Regions from separate parts of the Homo sapiens genome. Here regions 2 and 3 are each reported to be linked to region 1. Evidence: microRNA targets listed by miRTarBase, many of them from high-throughput screens and not tested one by one. Region 1 holds a microRNA gene; each other region holds the end of a gene's coding sequence.

The links. Region 1 holds the annotated microRNA hsa-miR-4733-3p (CCACCAGGUCUAGCAUUGGGAU, at 1,636-1,657, opposite strand). A microRNA usually pairs through its seed, bases 2 to 8, with sites in the 3' UTR of a target mRNA and lowers its output. Matches are read on the target gene's strand: a 7mer-m8 pairs with bases 2 to 8, a 7mer-A1 pairs with bases 2 to 7 and ends in A, and an 8mer does both.
Region 2: the mRNA of REPIN1 is a reported target of hsa-miR-4733-3p. Seed matches in the 3' UTR shown: 7mer-A1 at 3,471-3,477.
Region 3: miRTarBase lists MOCOS as a target of hsa-miR-4733-3p. Seed matches in the 3' UTR shown: 8mer at 2,639-2,646.

Annotation. Positions count from the first base shown.
Region 1 is chr17:31,092,723-31,097,943 of GRCh38, forward strand. It overlaps MIR4733 (microRNA 4733), which reads right to left and starts at 1,703; the gene lies at 1,628-1,703. NF1 (neurofibromin 1) reads left to right here and starts at 2,255. Exons shown (of 58, transcript NM_001042492.3): 1 at 2,255-2,647. The coding sequence starts at 2,588. It overlaps MIR4733HG (MIR4733 host gene), which reads right to left and starts at 2,768. Exons shown (of 4, transcript NR_186435.1): 1 at 2,505-2,768; 2 at 651-769. It overlaps LOC124903974 (a long non-coding RNA gene), which reads left to right. Exons shown (of 2, transcript XR_007065704.1): 2 at 154-405. RefSeq lists a promoter at 1,835-2,260, cis regulatory regions at 1,868-2,107, 2,334-2,644, an enhancer at 2,248-2,265 and silencers at 2,500-2,569, 2,610-2,659.
Region 2 is chr7:150,372,029-150,377,249 of GRCh38, reverse strand. REPIN1 (replication initiator 1) reads right to left here. Exons shown (of 3, transcript NM_001099695.2): 3 at 3,211-5,221. The coding sequence ends at 4,305. It overlaps REPIN1-AS1 (REPIN1 antisense RNA 1), which reads left to right and starts at 4,307. Exons shown (of 4, transcript NR_183429.1): 1 at 4,307-4,409. RefSeq lists enhancers at 3,583-3,732, 3,793-3,912.
Region 3 is chr18:36,268,047-36,273,267 of GRCh38, forward strand. MOCOS (molybdenum cofactor sulfurase) reads left to right here. Exons shown (of 15, transcript NM_017947.4): 15 at 487-4,111. The coding sequence ends at 639. Among named protein-coding and RNA genes, the nearest start is that of FHOD3, 27 kb to the right of the region's middle.

The DNA of each region.
Region 1 (5,221 bases):
AAAAGGAGAGGAAGGTCATAGGTCTGAAGTTTAGCAGTGCAGTAGGGGGCACTGGAATACTATCTTGGGGGTATGAGTGAGTGCTTTTTCAGGGGTCCTACTTGGGAGAAACATAGATAGACATTCATTTAATATTCATCCATTTCTTTCCAGCATAGTCATCATTCTGACATCATCTAAAAGAAATTAGTATCTGCATTGCATCCTTAAAGAAGAAGGGACAAAAGACATGTCCAAACTGTCTGTCTGTTCTAGTGGAATAAAACATTAATTTAATATGTATTTTGGACAACCACCAACCTAGAGATTGGAAACTTTTCTCAAGGATATATCTCTCTGTATGTGGGCTACTGGCTTTGTGGCTTTTCTGTAGGAAAATTAAAATTCTAGTTTTGTTCTCCCTTATCACCCAGTGTCTGTGTGGCTTAACTGGCTGATTAGCGCGTGCTTGGAATGTGTAAATTCATTTTAACATTGGCCTAGGGGCCTGTGTGGTAGCTCACCCCTGTCATCCCAGCACTTTGGGAGGCCAAGGCAGGGGGATCACTTGAGGCCAGGAGTTCCAGACCAGCCTGGGCAACATAGCAAGACTGTGTCTCTACCAAAAAAAAAAAAAAAAAAAAAATTAGCCAAAGCAGGGTGACACTCACCTGTAGTCCCAGCTATTCAGGAGCTTGAGGTGGGAGGATCACTTCGGCCCAGGAGTCTGAGGCTGGAGTGAGCTATGATTGAGCCACTGCACTCCACTGCACAGAGTCAGACCTTGTCTCTGAAAAACAAAAACATTTGCCTAGGTAAAATGTATCGAGGAAGACAAATTTTAAAATTACTCATTCCAGGCCAGGTGCGGTGGCTCACACCTGTAATCCCAGTACTTTGGGAGGCTGAGGTGGGCGGATCATGAGGTCAGGAGTTCAAGACCAGCCTGGCCAATATGGTGAAACACCGTCTCTACTAAAAATACAAAAATTAGCCGGCTGTGGTGGCGCATGCCTGTAGTCCCAGCTACTCGGGAGGCTGAGGCAGAAGAATCACTTCAACCGGGAGGCGGAGGTTGCAGTGAGCCGAGATCGCGCCTCTGCACTCCAGCCTGGGTGACAGGGTGAGACTCTGTCTTAAAAAAAAAAAAAAAAAATTAGTCATTCCAAAGTCCAATGTCAGACATAGATTATCCGTTGTTTTGGATGTAATCCTCTTCCTGGAAAACTGGCACAACCCAATTACACATGAAATCCTTTCAACTCTGGTATTGGAGGTATAGGGAAGGACTTTGTTTTAGGAGACCCATAGTCTACCTCTATTGTTCTAGGAGTTAAACCACGTTGGTTTACATCCTGACTTTGCCACCTGTCAACTCAGACCTTGGGCAAATCAAAGGTCTGAGGGAGGAGTGCAGGCTCCCAGCGTTCCCACGGGGGTGGGGACGTGACGTATTCATCAGTTCATGAAGTTAATGATATGTATTGAAAAGGTTTGTTCAAGGATTTAAATAAGACGATGAATATATTGAATTAATAATGAATGCAAGGCCTTAAAGGTGTTTTGAGGGTGGTGAAACTTGAATCTCTCATCAACTGTGCAATAGTTATATTAACTTGGATGGCTATGAGTTTTGCAGAGGAAAGCTGGGCTTAAATCCCAATGCTAGACCTGGTGGCTAGACCTTGATTGCCACCGGGTCTAGCATTGGGATTTAAGCGACCTCTAAAAAAAAAAAATCACGGAATCTCTCTTTGGCCTTCCTTTTTTGTTTCTCAGCAGTCTACCAAGCTACGAAGAACCTGAAAATCGGAGGTCGTGTACCTTATTTTTTCTGAGAGCTTAAGCTGAGAGCACAGCCTCCCCAGGAGATTAGCGGCAGAGATCCGCGCGCTGGGAGAAAGGCTAGCCCCAGGGCGCCCTAACTTCCAACTCCGGGAGCAATCCAAACCCGGAGGCCGGCGGGGGAGGGGACAGCTGTAGGGGGCGGTGGGGATGGGAGTGGATGCTCCCGGGTCAGCTCTGGCACTCGCCAGCTGAGCCCAGCGCCAGTCTAGGTGAGCCCCACGGCGGTGAGGGACGCTCGCCAGACGGCCCAGAGGAGTTAGATGACGTCACCTCCAGGAGGACTCGCTTTTTCATTAATGAAACCGGCCGGCGCGGGCGCATGCGCGGCAGGCCGCCTTCCCTCTCGCTTCCCCCTCCCCTTTCCCAGCCGCGCTCTCAATCTCTAGCTCGCTCGCGCTCCCTCTCCCCGGGCCGTGGAAAGGATCCCACTTCCGGTGGGGTGTCATGGCGGCGTCTCGGACTGTGATGGCTGTGGGGAGACGGCGCTAGTGGGGAGAGCGACCAAGAGGCCCCCTCCCCTCCCCGGGTCCCCTTCCCCTATCCCCCTCCCCCCAGCCTCCTTGCCAACGCCCCCTTTCCCTCTCCCCCTCCCGCTCGGCGCTGACCCCCCATCCCCACCCCCGTGGGAACACTGGGAGCCTGCACTCCACAGACCCTCTCCTTGCCTCTTCCCTCACCTCAGCCTCCGCTCCCCGCCCTCTTCCCGGCCCAGGGCGCCGGCCCACCCTTCCCTCCGCCGCCCCCCGGCCGCGGGGAGGACATGGCCGCGCACAGGCCGGTGGAATGGGTCCAGGCCGTGGTCAGCCGCTTCGACGAGCAGGTAACCGGCCCGTGGCGGGCGGGAGGTGGGAGCGGAGTGGGGGTGGGGACAGAGTAGGTGAGGGGAGGTAGGAGCGGCCGCCTCCCCCGCGGCTGCCTCAGGCTCTGGAGGAAAGGAAGGGAAGGGAAGAGAAGGGAAGGGGGGATAAGTGGGGGTGGCCAAGGCGGGAGGTGAGGGGTAGGAGGGGACAGCTGGGAGCTTGGGCACCCTTTCCCTCCTAAGTCGGGGGGTGGGGCCTTGTCCCTGACCAGCCTCCGACCCTCCATCCCCTTTATCCCAGCCCTTCCGCTTGGAAATGGGGATGAGTGACCTGGGGGCGCCTTTAGGGGCGCGCCATCTGGATTTAATAATTACCCCCTTACTTTTGTTTTTGAGCAGAGGTGGGTAACGTTTAGGGGTTCTCTCTTCCTCTTCCCTCCGTGACCCTCCTAACTGGGGACGAGCGAACCCTAAGGCCTGTCTTATATACCCTCAATAGGAGAACGATAACATTCCGCCCCTCCCCCAGTTTCTTCAGCTTCCTCTCCTGGAGGGGGAAGAGCAGAAGAAAGCAAGGAAGGCACAGGTTTTCTTACTTTCTGCTCCATCGTCTCATCCTGCCCCGAGAGCTTCAAGTGCACACTCACTGCACATCTTTGTGATGCCCTACAACGTCGTCCCCCATATCCTGATGACACAGACTGCCTTTTTTTTTTATTGCCGTTTGCAGTGGAAACCGTGGTTCTGAAATATCTTCCCCTTCCTTGATAATTGCAGTCTCTTCCCCCCCCCCTTTTTTTTTTGCCAGCGGTCTGAGGATGTGATGCATTCTCGAGTGAGAATGTTGGGGAGTAAAGGGGAGAAGGGTGAAAGGAAAGTGAGAAACTGCTTCAGAGCCACCGACAACAGAGCAAAGCCAGCTGGGATGTGGTCCTGGAGCGGATCATTCTGCTAGTGTTTGTGGTTGTTTTTGACTCTCTCCTGGTTGACAAGAGAACTTTCATTGAGAATATTTGGGATGAAAAAAAAGTTTTGTAGCTTGAGGAGGTGACTTTTTATCGCCTGAGTTTCACACAATAAATCCTGGGGCTGATTAGAATAAATGCACACATAGCCTTTTGTCAGTGGAAATTGGTTTAACTTTGTGTTGCTGTAGGTAGTTGGGGATGGTTTAAGGGATGCTTTCTGCAGCTGTGGGTGCAGTGGGCTTCCTGTGATGGGGGAATTGTTTAAGATTGAGTCAACCTATTTTGTTTACTGGATATAATGGTAAAACATTATGGGAGCTGAAGGGGTGGGGGAAGAGCTCTTCTGTTATTTGATGCATAAACATTTCTTTACGGGACTCAGCGTTTCAGACCTACCTGGAAAATATCTTGGAATAGACAGAGGAAGTTGAGAAGAAGCTATGTAGATAAAATAGAGTTATGAAGCTGTCAGAGACTTGAAGGAATTGTTTTATCCATTCGTATGCTTCCAGACCCAAAGGCATCTAAACTAAACTACTAATCCATCTGAAGTATAATGTTACTGCATATAAAAGATTACATTATTGATAGAGCGTTAGATTTAAAACTTGGTAGAAAAGACTCTGTAATTTTAAGAAAGGATTTAAAAGGCACATAGAAGACTTCCAAAGCTGAACCTTGTGGACAGCAGAATCTGGATGTAGGAAATTGAAGGATCCACGCCGCAATTCTCCTTAAATTTTAAAAATTAAAAATTTTTTTCAGTTTTTTCTTAATTTTATTTTTTTACTTCTTACCTGTTCATCTCTAGGCTTATTTGCCATATTGGAAAAAGATACTTAAGAGAGGAATGATTTTGGGCTGGGCGCGGTGGCTCACGCCTGTAATCCCAGCACTTTGGGATGCCAAGGCAGGTGGATCACCTGAGGTCAGGAGTTTGAGACCAGCCTGACCAACATGGAGAAACCTCGTCTCTACTAAAAATACAAAAATTAGCTGGGCATGGTGGCGGGCGCCTGTAATCCCAGCTACTCGGGAGGCTGAGGCAGGAGAATTGCTTGAATCCGGGAGGTGGAGGTTGCAGTGAGCTGAGATCACACCACTGCACTCTAGCCTGGGCGACAGAGCGAGACTCTTGTCTCCAAAAAAAAAAAAAAAAAAAAAGGAGGAATGATTTTGATTATATACCCAGTAAAGCAAGAAAGTGTTTCTCCTTCTGTCCCTAGCTTTAAAAGACCTTAAGGCTTCGTTGTTTGTTATGCATATTGTGGAATCAAACTCACCACCATCTGTTAAAAATTAAGGACATTAGTTTTTAAAACAGCATTTTTCTGCATTCCTTATGTTGTAATTAAGAGAAAGATATATAGGAGAGATTATTCCTCACTTTTTTTTTTTGAGACAAGGTCTTGCTCTGTCGCCCACGCTGGAGTGCAGTAGCTTGATGTCGGTTCATTGCAACCCCTGCTTCCCACATTCACGTGATTCTCCTGCTTCAGTCTCCCAAGTAGCTGGGATTACAGGTGTGCACCATCGTGCCTGGCTAATTTTTGTATTTTTAGTAGAGACGGGGGTTTCACCATGTTGGTCAGGCTGGTCTTGAACTCCTGACCTCAGGTGATCTGCC
Region 2 (5,221 bases), not on the chromosome of region 1:
TATTTCAGAGGTGGAAAGAATGGAGAACCTCTGGGATCCTATTTCCACTAAGAAAAAAAATACCAGGGGGAGAGGCTGCATATGTGTTTGCAAATACACAGGAAAAAAGTGTTAGGAGAATACTCCTCAAACTTTTCTCAGTGTAAACAAAAAGGATTTTGAGAGTGGAATAGGGGAATGAAGGAGAACGTTCACATTATTATCTGAATTATTTATTTTTAAAGATAATTTAATGCTTTTGTAATTGTAGAAGAAAACAAAGAAAAACTGTGGATTCTTCAGAAGAGATGGGCAGCTCCTGCCAGCAGACCCCTACAACCCAGGCAGTCCTCCCCAGTGACTGCTGTGGTGATGAACCAGGCAGAGCAAGGGCTTGAGAACCACTGGGCCACCCACCAAGGGACTCAGGAAGGAACCAGGCACAATTTGACTCTGTTCCTGCTTTACCAGCCCCCTCAAGGCCACTTGTGTGACCTTTCCGTCCTTTGGACCTCTCTTTCCCATCCCCATAACAAGCAGTGGGCAGTGAAGCACTGACGACACCCACACCCCGCTTTCCCCATATCCCAGACTATTTCCTTTAAACGGGACTTTTCAAAAGGTTAGGACCCCTGGTCAGATCCCCTCTCACCCTCATCCTTGTCCCTAACGGCTCCAATACTAACCTAGGTGCCAACCCAAGGACCCGCCCCTGCTCCCTGCCCATCATTTCCAGACATCGACCTACTCTTTCCTGGCCATCTCCCCTTCCCTGGAAACCCTGTGTTCCCACAAAGAGAAAAAATGTGACTGGGGCTTTCTTGAGACCACGCCCTCTGCTCCCAGGCTTTGACAGATAATTTGCCATCAACTACACAGGTTTTTAAGTGGCTCCATAACCCCATAAACCAATATGAAGCTTTGAAGCTGTTCTTTCCATCCTACACACTTTAAGCCCCACCCACACAGTTGGCATTTAATACTTAACCAAAAACAGCAGCACGCAGCGTTCATCCACTAAGCACACAGCGGTTGTCAAGAGCACAGGTTTCAGGAGTCAGACAGACTTGAATTTGAATCTGCCTCTGGTGATTACCAGTTATATGACTGTGGGCAAATGTTTTCATGTATAAAAGAAGACTACCTCCCACACAAGGACACATGAGATAATTTAGGTAAACTTCACCAGGTGCCACTCACGTCAACAAATTGTGGTTATTCTTATGTGCTCTGTGCTAAATGCTGGAGATATATGCAGAAATTGCTAACACAGGCAAGAAAAGAACTATTAATGCCTGGTAAAAAGAGGTACTCAAATTTGTATGAAACCACCAATTCAGGGACGCATACAGAGTGACTGCTCACAGAAATCTGGAGTCCTACAGCAGGCCGGCCAGGGACACTGTAGGACAGAATCAAATCAGCCCCCTTTCCTGCCTAGCAACTAGCACCTGAAAAGTCTGACCTGACCTTGAGATGGAGCAGAGACCCTCTTTTTTAATTTTTTTTTATTTTTATTTTTTGAGACAGAGTTGTTGCCCAGGCTGGGGTGCCATGGCGCGATCTCGGCTCACTGCAACTTCTGCCTCCTGGGTTCAAGTGATTCTCCTGCCTCAGCCTGCCGAGTAGCTGGGATTACAGGCATGCACCACCATGCCCGGCTAATTTTGTATTTTTAGTAGAGACAGGGTTTCTCCATGTTGGTCAGGCTGGTCTCAAACTCCTAACCTCAGGTGATCCACCTGCCTCGGCCTCCCAAAGTGCTGGGATTACAGGCGTGAGCCACCACGCCCAGCCTCAGAGACTCCACTTAGGAGCCTGCTGGGTTCTGCCCATCACTTGAAAAGCATGAGAATAAACAAAAATGTGAGTCCCTCCCAGGGAAATTCCAGGCACCTAGCTAGCTCTACAACCATGAATTGGGGAAATGAATGAATAACCCGCTAAGCAAGAAAGTAATAATAGCTTAAACAATAGTCACTCAAGTAGTAGTCACAGAATGTTAGCTTCCTCATAGAAACTAAAGATAACATCTTTTTGTTTGTTTTGTTTTTTGGGTTGTTTGTTTGTTTTGAGACAAAGTCTTACTCTGTTGCCCAGGCTGGAATGCAGTGGCACGATCTCAGCTCATTGCAACCTCCGCCTCCCAGGTTCAAGCAATTCTCCTGCTTCAGCCTCCCTAGTAGCTGGGACTACAGGGGCCCGCCACCACACCCAGCTAATTTTGTATTTTTAGTAGAGATGGGGTTTCACCATGTTGGCCAGGCTGGTCTTGAACTCCTGACCTCAGGTGATCCACCCACCTCGGCCTCCCAAAGTGCCGGGATTACAGGCATGAGCCACCATGCCTGGCCTAAAGATAACATCTTGACATATATCCTTGAGTTGTTTTTCAGGAGCCAGGACCCCCACCAATGTCACCACGTGACAATGCCAGCACGTAGACCTCAGACAGACTGGAACCAGAAAATGGATAAGGAAGTTCCAGAAATTCCTCAGCCCCTAACTCCCTTTGAAACCTCCCCACCCCTGCCTTAAAAACCCTTGCTTAAAAGCCATCAGGGAGTTTGAGCCTTAGCTGCCCATTCTCCTCGCCTGGTGCTCTGCAATAAACGCCTTACTTTCTCTGGCTGCAAATCTCACTGTCGGTGTTAGGCTTTGCAAACACTGGGCAAGTGGACCCAGGCTGGGTTTGACAACAACCTCAAAGAAGGCTGAAACCCTGGTGTGTGGAGTGTGGAAGCTGAGTGCTGTCTTAGCTGCAGGGAACAGCCTCCCCTCCCAGAGGCTCCTTCATCTGTCCAACCTCTGAAGGACTACTGGAGGCACAGTCCAAGTATAACCAAAGTCCGTTTAACACCCAGCACCCCTCAAAAGAGCTCATAGTGCTTGCTGTAGTTTCATAAAGGCCCAGGTGGTGAGAAAGATTAGGTGTTGCTGGGCCCATCTAGGAGGGCAAGTGACCAAGAACATAAATCTTGGGACCAAGCTGAGAGCATTCCACCCACCACAGTTCTCTGGAGCTTCGGCCCACCACCCAGAGAATTAGCCCAACTGCCTGGGTATGCTCAGGGAAGAACTGAGGCAGGGGGCCAGAGCTCAGCAAGCTGGGCATGTGGCCTGTGGCCAGAGCCCCACCCACAGCCCCCCGTCCTTCTAGGGAGGAGAGCATGCTGCTCCTCCTGACATGTCGCAGCTCCCCCAGAAAAAGTAACACTCCCCAGCCACCAGTTCTAAAACCAAATCTTTATTCTCTAGTTTGAAAAGGAGGGGTAAATGGTTGTTCTGTTTAGTTCCAGAGAACAGAACAAGGCCCAATAGGTAGAAATTATAGGAAAGCAGAATTCATTCATTATAAGGAAGGATTTCTAACAATTAGAATTTCTAACAATTAGAATCATCCAGGGCCTCAGGAGGTGCGGAAGTTCCTGTCACCTAAGTGCTCAAGCAGAGGCCAGGTGTCCATATGCTAGAAATGGAGAAAAGGAAACTCACCAGCAACTTCCCCTCAGCTGGCCCTCCATCACCAATGCGGCAGTCCTTGCCGTGACATGCTGAGCTCTGGAAGGAGCGAAGGAGGGGCTGCGGTGTTCAGACAAGAGCCTGGACACAGTGCTGCTGACAGCCAGGGGAGGCTCTCAGCGCTGGGAGGGGCGACAGATAAAGCGAGACAGACCAAGGAGTAAATGCCTTGGGATCTGCTCTTTGGGAAGGAAGAGGATGGAAGTATTAACAGCAGACGGGTCTCTCCAAGTCTGGGTGCCTACGCAGGGGGCAGGTGGGAGGGGAAGGGAGAGGTAAGAGTGGCTTCGCTTCACCTCTTGCTGCTGGCAAAGGCCCAAGTGCTGTCTAACAAGGCCAGCAGGTTCTCCAAGCTGTATCTAGCCCAGAGCATTCATTTACAGGACTCTACCACGCCTGCTTCCAAAAATGATCTTAAGTAACTTACAGTAAAAGACAGGGGCATTAAGGCGTTAATACCAGAGGATGGAGGGTCTTCCTTTCCACTGGTGGCTCCTCTAGCCAGAGGGCTCTAAGGGGCGGATGCTATTGCTGCTTTTCCAGGGCACAGGGCAGTCAGGACGGAGCCTTAGCACACACCAGCTGGAGGCCGGCGTCCCTGCGCTTGGAAGTGGGTTCCCTGGCCACCGGGGTTGACCTCTCTCGCTAGCAGGGCCCACCCAGCTCACTCCCCGCGTCTTCCATCCCCTCTAGGATTCCCATTGTCCCCTACTCCAGCACTAGGCAGGCACCCCCAGCCCACTGCGACTCCCACCACGAAGGACCCCAGCCCTCTCTCAGCCAACACGGCCCCGCCCACCGTCTCAGACATCGTGCTTCTTCTGGTGGGCCAGGAGTCTCTCCTCGTCGTCGAAGGTCTGGCCACAGATGGCACAGCAGAAGGCGCCGTCCCGGATGTGGCTCTTGCGGTGGGTGATGAGGTTGGACTTCTGGCTGAAGCTGCGGTCGCAGTCGGGACAGGCGTAGGGCCGCTCGCCCGTGTGGATGCGCCGGTGCGACACCAGGTTGGACTTCTGGCTGAAGGCTTTGCCGCAGTCGGGGCAGACGTAGGGCTTCTCGCCGGTGTGGATGCGCCGGTGCGCCGCCAGGTAGGGTTTGTGGCGGAAGGCCTTGCCGCAGTCGGGACACACGAAGGGCCGATCGGGGGCGTGGTCGCGCCGATGCGCCGCCAGATGGCTGCCCTGGGAGAAGCGGCGGCCGCACTCCTCGCAGGCGAAGGGCCGCTCGCCGGAGTGCACGCGCGAGTGCGCCACCAGGTGCGTCTTCTTGCCGAAGTTCTTCCCGCACTCGGCGCAGGTGAAGGGCCGCTCCCCGGTGTGCTGCCGCTGGTGGGCCCGCAGGAAGCGCTCCAGCCGGAAGCTCCTGCCGCAGTCGTCGCAGCTGTAGAGGGAGGGGGGGGCTTCGATCGGGTCCTGCGGGTGCTCTGGCGGGGCCCCTGGCGGCGGCTCCTGGGCCGGTTTCAGAGGTACCGCCGGGGTGGGCTCGGCCGCGGACTCCTGGGGGCCGGCTGGCAGCTGGGGGCTCCCCGGGCCGGGGGCGGCCTGGGCCGACCCCTCGGATCGCTTGTGAATCTTGCTGTGAGACAGCAGGTTGGGTTTGTGCCGGAAGCGGCGGCCGCACTCTTTGCACGGGTAGGGCTTCTCGCCGGTGTGGATGCGCCGGTGCGAAGTCAGATAGGGCTTATTGGTAAAGCGCTTCCCGCACTCGGGGCACTGGTGGG
Region 3 (5,221 bases), not on the chromosome of region 1:
ACATTGAGCAGACTTACCTACTCTTCATTTTGGACCTTCCATCCTTATTCAGGAGAATTTGACAAAATTAACTTGCATCATTCTTTCTCAAGGAAAATGCAGAGTTCTGCCACTGTCTTCCCCAAAAGGCTTTTACATCAGGCAGCAAACAGGAAATGGGCCTGATGGTGGTCACAAGCTGAGAGTAGGAAGAAAGTCCTTCTGCAGGAAGTTCAGGGCATGTGGGACAGAGATGTGCCCAGCAAGAAAGAGGTGTGGGGTGACCACAGGGAAAGGATGCCTTAGAATGAGAATCTTTGGGGTCTAAAGTTAGGATTCTCTTAATGTTCCAGTGCATTCTACTGTGTAACAGATAGGAGATATCAAGTCTCAGTATATGTCTTTAAAAATCTGACTTGATTTTAGTTAAACATTAATATTTACAAAGTTATTTTAATTGCTAAAATAATCTAGCCTTTTTTGTTGTTGTTGCTGTTTTGTTCACAGGTGAACTTTGGCATGTACCTGATGCATGCATCATTGGATTTATCCTCCCCATGTTTCCTGTCTGTAGGATCTCAGGTGCTCCCTGTGTTGAAAGAGAATGTGGAAGGTCATGATTTACCTGCATCTGAGAAACACCAGGATGTTACCTCCTAAAAAAAATTTTTAGCATAAAGTTTCTCTTTTACAGTGATCTCTATTATTGTTAAGATCTGCAACTTGGTTCAGTAGAACTTGATGTTTTGAATAAGGAGAGCTCTTTTTCTTTAGAGGCAGGGAATGCTCTCACCTGCTTCCTTCTGCCTTTGACTTCTCACCCTGCAAATTTGCACTGGCTGTGCTCAGGAGAGCACTTCTGAGGCCTCAGGAACGAATGCTGCACCCACATCCAGTGAGGCTCCTGTAGGTATTTGAAGTATAATCACTTGTAATCAGATGAAATTTTTAATGAAGTTCACTGGGAAGATTGAACTTACTGCGGGTCCCTATTTTGCCATTTTCTCACATTGTTACTTTGTTTTTAGAGAGCATCTTTGGATCTCTCCAACCCGTTTGTAGTGAGGAAGGGAGTCTATGCCCAGTGATCCTGGGTATGAGAAGGTGCTCCTCTCCTCCCATGTACATGATGGTGTGGGTTTATGCTCAGGGGCCCAGAGGGTAACTTGTGACCACATTCCTTGAGGGGAGTTTCTACCAGAATATTTATATTCTGAGCAAAGGCACAGGCCAGCAATTCCTTTCCTGTTGCTTCCCATCCCTGGCCTCCGTCCTCATCCCCCACTGAGTTGATGCACTGAGGATGGCTCACGAGCCTGAAGTTACACTCAGTGATGGCTGTGCTTATGCAGGTTGTCATCCTCCCCTCCACAAGCCCACAGGATGGTGTTGGTCCATCACCCGAGAGCCTCCAAATCCTATCGAGGGAGGAACTTTGGCATTCAGGAATCCTGTCTGTATCATCTTTGACCACTGCTCCTGCAGCCTCCAGATGAAAATGTCCAGTGAGGAAATCTCATTCTCTAATGAAGTTACCCATCCCGCTGAGTTTCTAAGAAGTTTCTCCCTGTGCGGAGCTTGTGTGTGCCTTATCTGCTTCTGCATGACTTCCAGCCTGGGGTCTTACCCTGTCCTCTGGAGCAATGCAGAGTGAGTACATCCACTCCACATTCATTCTGCTGGCGTCCTTCTGAAGCCTGCTGTCCATGTGTGAACCCAGTCCCTTCATCATCTTCCCCCTGGATGGTTGTATTTTTCCAGTCACTTCTCCCCCAAATGTCTGCCTGCTGCAGCCCACTGCATCTTTTGAAAGCCTGTGCCACCCCATCTCTCCTGCTGCTCAGTTGGAGAGCAGGCTCCAGGCTCAGGCTTCCCTAATGTATCTGTTCAGAGCCTGTGGGATTCAGGGTCAGTTTGTTTCATTATCACATTTGTAGGACTTTGTGTTGTTCCCAGCACTAGGTGAGATTTGAAAGATGAGGTGTGCTCTGTTCTCAAGGATTGTTGAGATGGAGCCTAATGATTGCACACTCACGTGCTGTGAAGAGTTAAGGGTAAAAAGTACAACTCTGACTCTGGTTCCTGAGATCACCGAAAGAAGAGGCAAATGAAGTTAGGTGGGGTGGGGTGGGGTTTATTGTTTTGAACTGTTTATTAAAAACGCAACCTCTTCAAAGACTCAGCACTGCCACATCATATGAGTGGACTTGTCCTCATCAGCTAACTGATAGGAGAACAATGCCCTAAAGTAATGGATTTATCCACCTACTCAGGCCAGTTTCATGCAGGAGGGAACTTTCCAGATGGCACATTGCCCCATTTCCAAGACCTTCCGCTGACAAATGCATCATATTAATTATGATGGAAAACAAGTAAGAAGGCATGCTCTACAAAAATTAGGTCACTTGCCCAGGTGCGGTGGCTCACACCTGTAATTCCAGCACTTTGGGAGGCTGACGTGGGCAGATCATGAGGTCAGGAGATCGAGACCATCCTGGCTAACACGGTGAAACCCCGTCTCTACTAAAATACAAAAAATTAGCTGGGCATGGTGGCATGCACCTGTAGTCCCAGCTACTTGGGAGGCTGAGGCAGGGGAATCGCTTGAACCCGGGAGGCGGAGGTTGCAGTGAGCCGAGATCATGCCACTGCACACCGGCCTGGTGACAGAGCAAGACTCCATCTCAAAAAAAAAAAAAAAAAAATTAGGTCACTTTTGTCATCAAGAATATGTTTTTCTTATCCACGTCTATGTCACCTTTTGCAGTAGATACTTTCATGACTGATTTCAGGCTTTTTGTTTTTTTGAGACAGGGTCTCACTCTGTCACCCAGGCTGGAGTGCAGTGGCATGATCACAGATCATTGCAGCCTTGACCTCTTGGGCTCAAGCGATTCCCCTGCCTCAGCCTCCCAAGTAGCTGGGACTACAGGCACACATCACCACATCCAGCTAATTTTTTTTTTCTTTTTTTTCTTTTTGGTAGAGATGGCATCTCACTTTGTTGCCCAGGCTAGTTTTGAATTCCTGGGCTCAAGCCATCCTCCCGCCACAGCCTCCCAAAGTTCTGGGATTACAAGTGTGAGCCACTGTGCCCAGCTTTTGATTTCAGACATTTTAATGCAGATCCTCTCCTTTACAGCACTATTATTTGGTTATCTACTTATAATTACTGATTTAACATTGATCTGTTTTCACTAGACTGTAAGCTCCATGAGGACAAGTCCTGTGCCAGTATATCTCTAGTGTCAGCAGACAATACTCAAAATTTGTTGACAGACTATTTAAAGCTGCCCCTATTTTTATCATTAATTGATTGAATATTAATTAAATATATTTTATTAATTTAAAATGAATTTTAAATGCATTTTTTCTTTAGTGTCTACCTTCAATATTTCTTGTATGAAGTTTCAGCTAAAAATGTACTTTGTGTATCTGTAGAGTGGCTTCATATTCAGAGTTTATGGACATTTATGATTTTATGTCCCCTCCTTGGTTCTTATCTCCTGGAGTTCAGCCTTATGTGCTTCTCAAAGTGTATAACAAAATCAAAGACAATGTCATGTCCCTTGAATTTAATTCTAACACCAAACCTTGGTGTTAGAGTCACAAAAAGTCCTTTTTTAAAAAAACTTGGTGAGAACAGACAATAACTTGTCTTTCTGGGCATTCGCGTCATGGTCCTTTTAGCCAGAAGAGAGGTTTTCTTTTGCATAGTTTGGTGAGCATCAAGAATCCTTTAAGGAGGGTGGCGGTGCTGACTTCTCCCCATTGAGAGTCAGCCTCATCCCCTCCTCAGCCTTGTGGATGGAGAAGAACAGGCAGTGATATACATTTTCTGCTGTTGAAAGATGTCCGCTTATCCTTCTCTTTCAGTGAAAAGTTGCTTTTTTATTCAATATGTACTGAACAGGTTCTAGAGTTTCAGAAACAAAAGAAACAGAACCAACATTTATAGATCTCACTATAGAGGCATCACTAATTGGGGAAAGACAGACTAGGTAATAGTCAGATGTGATATAGTATGTTTAAGCTATAGGATGGCAGGTGCATGAGTGTTGGTTGTATTATTCTTTATTTTTTTGTATGACTTATGATATTCATGATAATTAAAACGTTTTGGAACAATTCATCTCAATTTTCTTTGCTTTGTTTAAAAAGCAAACATTGGCCAGGTGTGGTGGCTCATGCCTGTAATCCCAGCACTTTGGGAGGCCAAGGTGGGTGGATCACTTGAGGTCAGGAGTTCGAGACCAGCCTTGCCAACATGGCGAAACCCCATCTCTACTAAAAATATAAAAATTAGCCAGGCATGGTCGTGTGCACTAGTAATCCCAGCTACTCGGGAGGCTGAGGCAGGAGAATTGCTTGATCCCTGGGAGGCGGAGGTTGAAGTCAGCGGAAATCCTGCCACTGCACAGCGGCCTGGGTGACAGAGTGAGACTCCGTCTCAAAAAAATAAAAATTTTTAAAAAATGAAATAAAAATTAAAAGCAAACATTGAGCAAGAAAAGGTGCCAGCCTGCTGAGGTACCATCTCTGTCATTGTAACTACGCCAAAGGCAGATGGATGAGAGAAGGGACCTGCCCTTAGGCTGAAAGATTTGTTATGTTGGTAGCTGGTGGTGTTGTCTGGAACTTATGAATTGTATTTTCCTTGTAGCTTTTTCAGAAAGCAAGCTATTTTTTTCTCTTATTACAGCTACTAAATTTTGAGTTATTCTCACCTTTATTCATTTTTTAAAATGTGGGCCTGCAAAAGTATATCTAGTACTATAACAATATCTTTTTTCCTCTAAATTTTTATTTTTTAATTTTTGTGGGTACATAGTAGGTTTATATATTTATTGGGAGTATAACAACCCCTTAATAGGGAGAAACAACATTTGAGGGGAGGGAAAATATGTATACAATAAACAGAGTGGGGTCACATGATAACATTCTAGGCATTTTGTCAGAGGTGGACCTAAAATTTGAATCTGAGCATGCTGGTATCTTCAAAAGGGGGAAACATGGGAGGCCGAGGTGGGCGGATCACGAGGTCAGGAGATCGAGATCATCCTGGCTAACACGGTGAAACCCCGTCTCTACTAAAAAATACAAAAAATTAGCCGGGCATGGTGGCGGGGGCCTGTAGTCCCAGCTACTCGGGAGGCTGAGGCAGGAGAATGGCGTGAACCTGGGAGGCGGAGCTTGCAGTGAGCGGAGATCGCGCCACTGCACTCCGGCCTGGGCGACAGAG